2 linked regions of the Homo sapiens genome follow. The protein of the gene in region 2 purifies or fractionates together with the protein of the main gene of each other region. This does not show direct contact. Each region holds a gene or a part of one and is shown on either strand. Other genes may lie near its edges.

Region 1 (3,500 bases), on a different chromosome or scaffold from region 2:
ATACTAGGTGCTCAATCATTACTTGCCATGTGGAATAACGAATGTTTCCCTTTGGCGTGTGGGGAGCAAAGGCTGTCCTGGACTCATTCTCCAAAGCCATTCCCACAGGTAGGGTGTTGATCACTGACGTGTACCTGCCATCAGGATCCTCGCTCCCACCTGCCCAGAGGGATGTGGCACTGTCACAGTGAGCAGAGGCTCCCAGCAACCCCGACCACAGAGAGGAAAAGACCCAGCGTGTTCTCCTCCTTCTCCCCCTTCCACATTCTCTGCTCCTCTCCTTCCCGGTCCACTCCACCCCACTCCTCCCTACCTCTTCTGCCGTTTTCGTCCCCTTTTTCATTTCTGTCCTCCACTCCTACCAAAATCAAAACAGAGGACAGGCTGCTCGTCACCACCAGGCTGTGGTTCAGCACACAGTCATGACCCTCGAGACCACATACACCTGTCATGTCTCATGAGGAAAAATGCAGAGACCCTGACCAAGCGGGCCACCGTCGCGGGACATGACCCTTGAAATCAGTCTACCTCTCAGGCATGCCCTCAGGTGGGCACCAGCTTCACGCGGCCACAGCAGCCATGCAACTGCAAGGGAAGCTGCTGGCCAGTCTGCTAGCAACCCAGGCTGTGGTGGGGAGGAGACCAAAGGCTGATACTGGATTCAGAGGATATTTAGTCACTACTTTTCTTTCCTCGGGACCCAAGGAGCATTTACAGGGACCTATAAGAGCAAAGAGTCACTTTACTTTTCTTTCCTCGGGACCCAAGGGGCATTTACAGGGACCTATGAGAGCAAAGTGCAGTCTCCTTTCAAGGAAAAGTAAGAAGAGTAAATGAGTAAGAAATTGCAAGGGTTGCCCTTACATAGTTGCCCAACTCATTGCTTGAATTAAACAAAAAAGTATTTTGTTTAAACTATGTCATCCATGCACCTACTGGGTTATGGTAGGACAAAGATCCTACCAAGAACTTCCAAGGCTTGTTTAGTTCTTGTATTTGTTCTAATATTTATTCTCCTTGTGACTGCTGACTAATATGCACCATCCCGTGCATGCCTCTGATGTACTAGGCAAGGGCTGAGCGTTCTGCAGGGACTAACGCATTTACATCTGAACAACAGCCCAATGAAGCAGGTTTAACTAAGCTCCTTGTTTAATGGGTGAGGCAGCAGACGATTAGAGAGGATAAATAACTGTTCTGAGAACTCGCAGGAGGTAAGCATAGGAGTACTACCTGGGAGTTAACTGAGCCCAGCGCCTCTGCTCTTAACCATGAAGCTCCAAGCCTCACAGGCACTGCACACAAGCTCCTTAGAAAGATTGCCCACCCCAGAGAGGCGGCAGGAAGCTGGGCCTTACCAGTTGTGATCAGATAGGCATCGGGGACTGTGATATCACAAACATATGGCGGCTTGGCAGTAGCCAGTGTTGGTGTGTCGACTGTTGCTTCGAGAGTGAAGGCAGTCACGGGACGCAGGGATGGCAGGGGAGGAGCAGCACTACTCTCTGGGGGGCTCTGACTTGCGGCGTCACCCATCAGGGTGGAGTCGAGGGGACCACCAGTGGCAGCACCGGTGCTGGTTGTGCTCACTTCCGTGGAGGTGTTCAGTGGCACCTCTGTGGGTGTGAGTGATGGGCCCACGACGGTCAGCTCTGTGGGCAGAGGGAAGGGGGTTGCTTCAGAAACAAACGAGGATCCTGATGGCAGGTACGCGTCAGTGATCAACACCGTACCAGTGGGAATGGCTTTGGAGAAAGAGGCCAGGACAGACACGTGACCGTCTAGAGCACTGATTTGGTCGTCAGGAGGTGTCAGAGTTGAGAACAAAGAAGACTCAGTTAAAATGGGCGTTGTGTGGACAGTGGTCAATGGTGATGTTGCTTGAATCCCGGCAGTCAAAATGTCAAAAGACTCAGAGCCGGGGGGCACCAGTGCAGTGACTGCGGATTCATGGGAAATGAGTGAAGACTCAAGATAGGAGGTAGTTTCAATGAAAGCTGAGGTAAAATGAGCTTCTGAATCCGTCAGTGAAACCGTAGACGCTTCAACAAACTCGAGAGAATCAGAAGGGAAGCTTGACCATGGTGACACCTCAGAACGGCTAGGTAGCAACATGATGGTGTTTAAAGGCAGCTCGGAACTTGGCTGGAGCTGCGAAAACTCAAGATTTGTGGAACTGGGAAGAGACAGCTGAGATGACTGCAGATCACTAGAGTCAAACAATGTAAATGTCTCAACCAAGGGAGAAAAAGACTGAGATGTGAAGGGGGACAAGTCACTCGGCATCAGAGACAGAGACGCAGGTGCTTCCGAAGGCGAAGAGATGGAGCCGCTGAGTTCCAGCGGGGGTGTTGAGAAAAAGCTGGATGCAAAATCCAAAGCACCTCTGGGTTTATGCTCAGAAAAACTGGAACGTTCTTGGTCAGAGAAAAGTGAAGACTCCACTGAAGGAACCAGACTATAAGGCGTAAAAACACTCGGGTCTCTGACGGCAAGCGACGGTGTGTTTTTGTTTGCTATGACAGAGAAAGATGAGTCAAGGAGAATGCTGGTGATGACCGAGAAAAATGCAGTGGTCACGCTGGATGGCGTCACTTGGGTTTCAGCAACAGACAAGGAGCCAGCAGTAGGATCAAGTGACGCCGGCACAGAGAGGCGGCCGTGGGCAGGGGGAACCTGTGTGGTTGTAACACTACTCATATCCACCTCGGCAGAAATGCCAACACTCGTCTCTGAGATTTCCATGGATCTAGAAGAAAGTGGGACGATAGGTCTGGAGGGGAAAAGCGTATTAAATACTTGAGGATCTTCCTCAAATTCAGAGAAGTCTGCTACGACGCTACTCATTAGAGAGATGCTGCTTTCTTCCAGCACGGTCATGCACAGAGTCTCGGCACCATCCCCTGATCCCACGTCTTTCTCCATGAGGCTCGTGGCCAGAACTTGCTGAGGTGAAGGCACAGTGCAGGCCGCACACCAAGTGTATGGTCTGAATGAGGACACCGGGCTCAGGATATGAGTGTTGTCCACAGGACCGGGGAGGGCTGAATTGCTATGCAATTCGGATGTTTTGCTGGAGTCGCTAGGGAGAAAGGGGTTAGATGAAACATCAGTTGGTGAAGCAGAGGACGCAAATGCAAGAGGAGTTGAAAGCAATGGAGAATGTGTCCTGCTGAATGCAAGGGCTGCGTGCGATGCAGTCACAGTGGGGTATGTTCTTGGAGAGATGGTTTCTTCTAGGCTTTGACTCAACACAGTGGTCACATCAGTGTATCTGTCTGCACTTGTGGCCCAAACCTCCTCTGGAGGCTGTGAGACCTCCCCCAAGGAGGGCAACGGTATAGTAATGCCGTCGCCTAACGGCTGTGGCATTAAAGACCGGGAGCTTAAAAAAAGGGTGGTTTCCACACCCTCTGTTAGGGAAGCCACAATCTCTGGCAGAGTCCTGCTTGATAAATGACTGTAAGCATCAGTAGGATAAAGCACCAAATTCCTGCCAG
Region 2 (4,187 bases):
CCAGTTGAGAAGGAATTAGATATTTGACTTTAATGCTGCTAGGTTGCAGACCGTGCACACAGAGGGTAAATGATATCAAAGCCTTGTTCCTCCTGGTTCAACTATATCAATAAGAAATGCAGTCAAGGCACCTGCAAATAGCAAAAATCAACCTTGCTTAGCATTTGCTTGTAAGGCGATTGGGGTGCTGCTTAAAGCAATGGGGTTAGCATCCCCTGTCAGCAACACTTACTCTTCTTTCCTAAGAAGCTCCTCCTCAGATTCCGTCAGGCGTTGCCTCAGTACAGCTATCATTTCCACGGCCACGTCCACCTGTCTGTTTAAGGCCCGCTCTCGTCTCTGAACTTCCTGCTTTTTCTGAGTCAGCTGCACAAAAGCTGCCCGAACTTCCAACAGTTCCGCAGTTTTCTGGGCCAACTCTTTGGTGAGTTTATCAATTCTCTTCTCAATGGTCCTATCCACAGCCTCAACCATTCGATTGAATTTTTCTCTGACATGTGCCTCGAAAGAAGCTTTGGTGTCTGAGGTGGGCAGTCCAGGACCCGACCGTGTCCCATCCAGCGAGTCTGCATGGAGGTCCATGGCAGTGTAGGTCTGCACATAGGACACAGGCCTCTCTGCCACCACCTCAAATGGCTTCCTGTCCTTGGAATGTTCATGTGAAATGCTGTACAAGTTAACATAGCTCGGTTTCTGCTTTACCACGTTGCCACTGCTCTGCAATTTTCCCGGTTTCAGGAGTTCTGAGGAAGTGACTAGGTCTGTGTCTTTGAGGGATGGAAAGAGACTGCATTTTGTCAAGAGGGTTCTTTCTTCGTAGCTGTGACTGAACTCCAGATGGGCCCTCAAGGATGACAAGCTTCTAAATCTGGTATGGTCTCCACACCTCGGGCAGCGTAATGGCAGGCACACAGCAACATTCTCAAAGGACTCCTGCCAGGGATATCTGCTTTCCTCAAAAGCCTTCTGTTGCATTACTCTAAAAGTCCTGGGAGGGGGGAAATAGGTAGTTTACAAGTCGGCTGAAAAACACACTACTAAAATGATTGCTGCTCATCTCCATGACAGCAGAGGCTTTTTGGTTTCAAGTGACTTTTGCACATAATATTTTATGTTGCACTTAAAACCTACAGCCCATGGGCCAAATCCATCCACATCAATTTCTGCATTATTTACTGCTGCCGTATCAATTTCTGTATTATTTATTGTAAACCACAATGGCAGTGGTGAGTAACTGAGACAGAGACTCTATGCTCCTAAAAGCTAAAATATTTACTACCTTTACAGAAAAAGTTTGCCAACTCCTACCTAGAATCAAAAAGGTGGGTAACATTCCCTCTCCACAGAAGAGAACACTGAAGCAAGGAAGTAAAGCCATTAATCCAAGGTCAGATGGAAAGTGGTAGATCCAGAAGTGGAATTCAAGTTTCCTCCCCTCCTGAATTTGGCACACTAAATGCAAAACCGTGCCCCATTTTAAGGATACAATCCGAGATGCGTGAACACAAGAACATATGAAAACTCACATGAATTGTCAAAATGGGTCCTAAGACAGCAAGCTCAGGACCTATCCTCAAGTACAGGAAAGATTACTCAAGCTATGCACAGTGGCATTAAGCCTGCAATCAGCTGAAAATTTTTCACCCTGAAATTTTTGCCTTTTTTTCCTTCAGGTATTGCTGTGATGACATAAACCAAAGTGCTAATCGTAACAATAACAGACCCCATACGTGAGTTTCACTGAAACCTGGGGACCCAATGTGTCAAATACCATTTGGCATAAGTGGGGCCATGGCCAAGATTTTTATTATAATAGAGTGTTCTGGACGGATTTGTCTTGTCTCAGATGCTATTTTATATGACAACCTCTAGGGATGGTCAGTGTGTGAACCAGGTAGGTATCAGCATACTCTCTTAATAACAGGAAGTTCTGGTTTCCTTGTAGGAATGCATTATCTTCACCCTAGCAACAGATGACTGTTGGCAACCCAATTCTGCAAGCAGTGCATATCTTCTATTCCTCCATGAAAGGTTTCTACTTAAATGTAACAAGCATTGGACCCGAAATGAGGGAGCCCAGCTGGGGTCTTTGGGTGAAAAGTGTCCTCAACCTCTTCAAAAGCAGAGGTGCAAATGGTCCCCAGGCAGCGAGGCAGGCAAGGCTTCTAGGTGAAGCCCCCGGCCCCCAGAGAGGGGAACCTCTTCCTGTGATGGGTACACCGGGATGTTTAACCACTGGTTTTCTGGGAACGAGATGCAAACCCTGGCTCAGCATAGGGCCAAAGACGCTGACAAGAGGTAAGGAAAGGGGAAGTCAGGATTCTAAGGGGGCAATGGGAAAAGGGTGGCATTTTGGATGGGGAAATGGGTAATCACACACTCCAGAGCACGCAGGCTTTTATGGGCCCAGAGGAAACCCAGTCCACTGGGCTGATGAAGAGCCCTAAGTGACTCTGCCAGAGAAGGGCAGGCTGGCAATGACCCTGCCCCGGGGTCCCAGCTCTCCCCGCCCCCTCTCCGCTGCGTGCCAGCCCACGGGTGCCAGAGTGGATTCGTGTGCACATGAGTTCCTGCTGGTGGGGGCCGGGAAGCCGGCTCTCCCAACTCCCCGCCATGCTGCGGGCTCGGGGACCCCCTCCCCAGCCCCGGCCACCCCGGCAGGTCCCCTCCGCCGAGCCGCGGGCGCAGATGGCCGGCGGCCGCCTCTTACCCGACTTGTTGCTGCTGCTGCTGCAGCCGCCGCCTCCGGTGCTGATGCTGCGGGAGCGAAGCGGTTTTCAGCAGAGCCGTAAATCAGACTGAGCCGGGCCGGCTCCCACTCCCCGCCGCACCTCCGCGCCGGGACCGGCGGCGTCCAGGGCGGAGCGAGGCGCGGCTAGCCAGCGGGGGCGGCGCTCGCGGGCACCGTGGGGCACCGCGCCGTGGGTGCGGGGGTTCCGGAACGCCGCGGCCCAGGGCTGCCACCTCCGCGGGGAACACCCTTGCTCTGCCCAGCTGGCGGGAGCATCATCTGCCCCCCCGCCACCCAGCCGGGAGCCCGATCCGACTCAGGATTACACTGACATCACTGCGAGAGATGCTGGGATCATTCCCCGGGGGAGGGAAGGAAAGACGCGTGTCAGCCTCGCAGTCGCGGCGCTTTCTGCAGGCCCTGGCAAGCTTTTTTGCACTAGTTTGGGGGGAGCGGGAGAGTGTGGATGAGGATGCAGCATAGCTGGGCATCTTCTTTGAAAATCTACCCGTTGGAAGGTCCGGGTATTTAATTAGGACCTCTTCATCCCAAGCAGCAGGGCGAGAATGTCCCAAAATAACTAACCCAGAGAGTACACTCCAGCCTTCCTAGCCAAGTGTCCTGAGGCTACGTTAACAGGCAGAACTAAATCTAGTAAAGTGCAGGGATTAATGAACAAACAGTTAAAGCAACAAGATCCCTCACCTACACCCCCATTTCTGAGGCGGACGCCCCTTTCCCTGGAGAAAAAATTTGTCCTCCTAAAGAGGGGATGTCCTGAAGAGAAGACGGCAAATCATTCCTTCTGAAGGACTCTGATGTCTCAGCTTGCTGGGCTTTTGCTTTTTTTTTTTTTTTTTTTTTTTTTTAACCTGTTTTGGTTTACCCCTACTGTAACTCCTGAAATGTGAAACCTAGATAAAAGTTACTGCTGGGTTTTCTTGTTCAAAGAAGAGAAGAGATTCTGTTCATCTGTAGACAGTTAATGCATCCTCTTGACTTCTCAGGGTGTCTTTTCTCAAGGCTTGCTGTTACTCATTTCAACACCCGATTTTATTTTAACGGTAAAGAGCTCAACAGTTATCTTAGTTGAAATTTTGTTTTGTTTTTGACAAATGAAAACAAATGAATTGCTTTGTTTTTTCACAAATGAATTATCACATCAAATGCAATGAAGATCCCAAGCTCTGGCATCAGACTTGATTCAAATCCTGGTTCTAGGGCCTGGGTCAAGTAACTAGACTTTTCTGTTCCTTCAATTCCTCATCTATGAAATGAAGATAATCAAGACCTACCTCTTAATATAGCGGTGGATCGAATGTGCTATGATGATGGAGGTAAAAACCCTGCCTGACAGGGACACACACTGATAAAGTCAGCTGTTATCGTTGTTGCTACTTCATTTATAATTATTATTAATTCCATAAAAAAGGGGCCTACACACATTTAAAAAGCA

Evidence for each region.
Region 1: the proteins of ZNF365 (region 2) and KIAA1549 purify together in Homo sapiens (affinity purification with mass spectrometry; one large-scale study listed by BioGRID and IntAct). This does not show direct contact.

The regions. Positions count from the first base shown.
Region 1 is NC_000007.14:138,915,390-138,918,889, forward strand, and holds part of KIAA1549 (UPF0606 protein KIAA1549), read right to left. Parts: coding exon 1,359-3,500; intron 1-1,358. UniProt on the Homo sapiens protein: May play a role in photoreceptor function.
Region 2 is NC_000010.11:62,372,982-62,377,168, reverse strand, and holds the start of ZNF365 (protein ZNF365), read right to left. Parts: upstream 2,801-4,187; 5' UTR 2,711-2,800; intron 2,299-2,710; exon of another isoform or gene 2,042-2,298; intron 989-2,041; 5' UTR 976-988; coding exon 233-975; intron 1-232. UniProt on the Homo sapiens protein: Involved in the regulation of neurogenesis. Negatively regulates neurite outgrowth. Involved in the morphogenesis of basket cells in the somatosensory cortex during embryogenesis.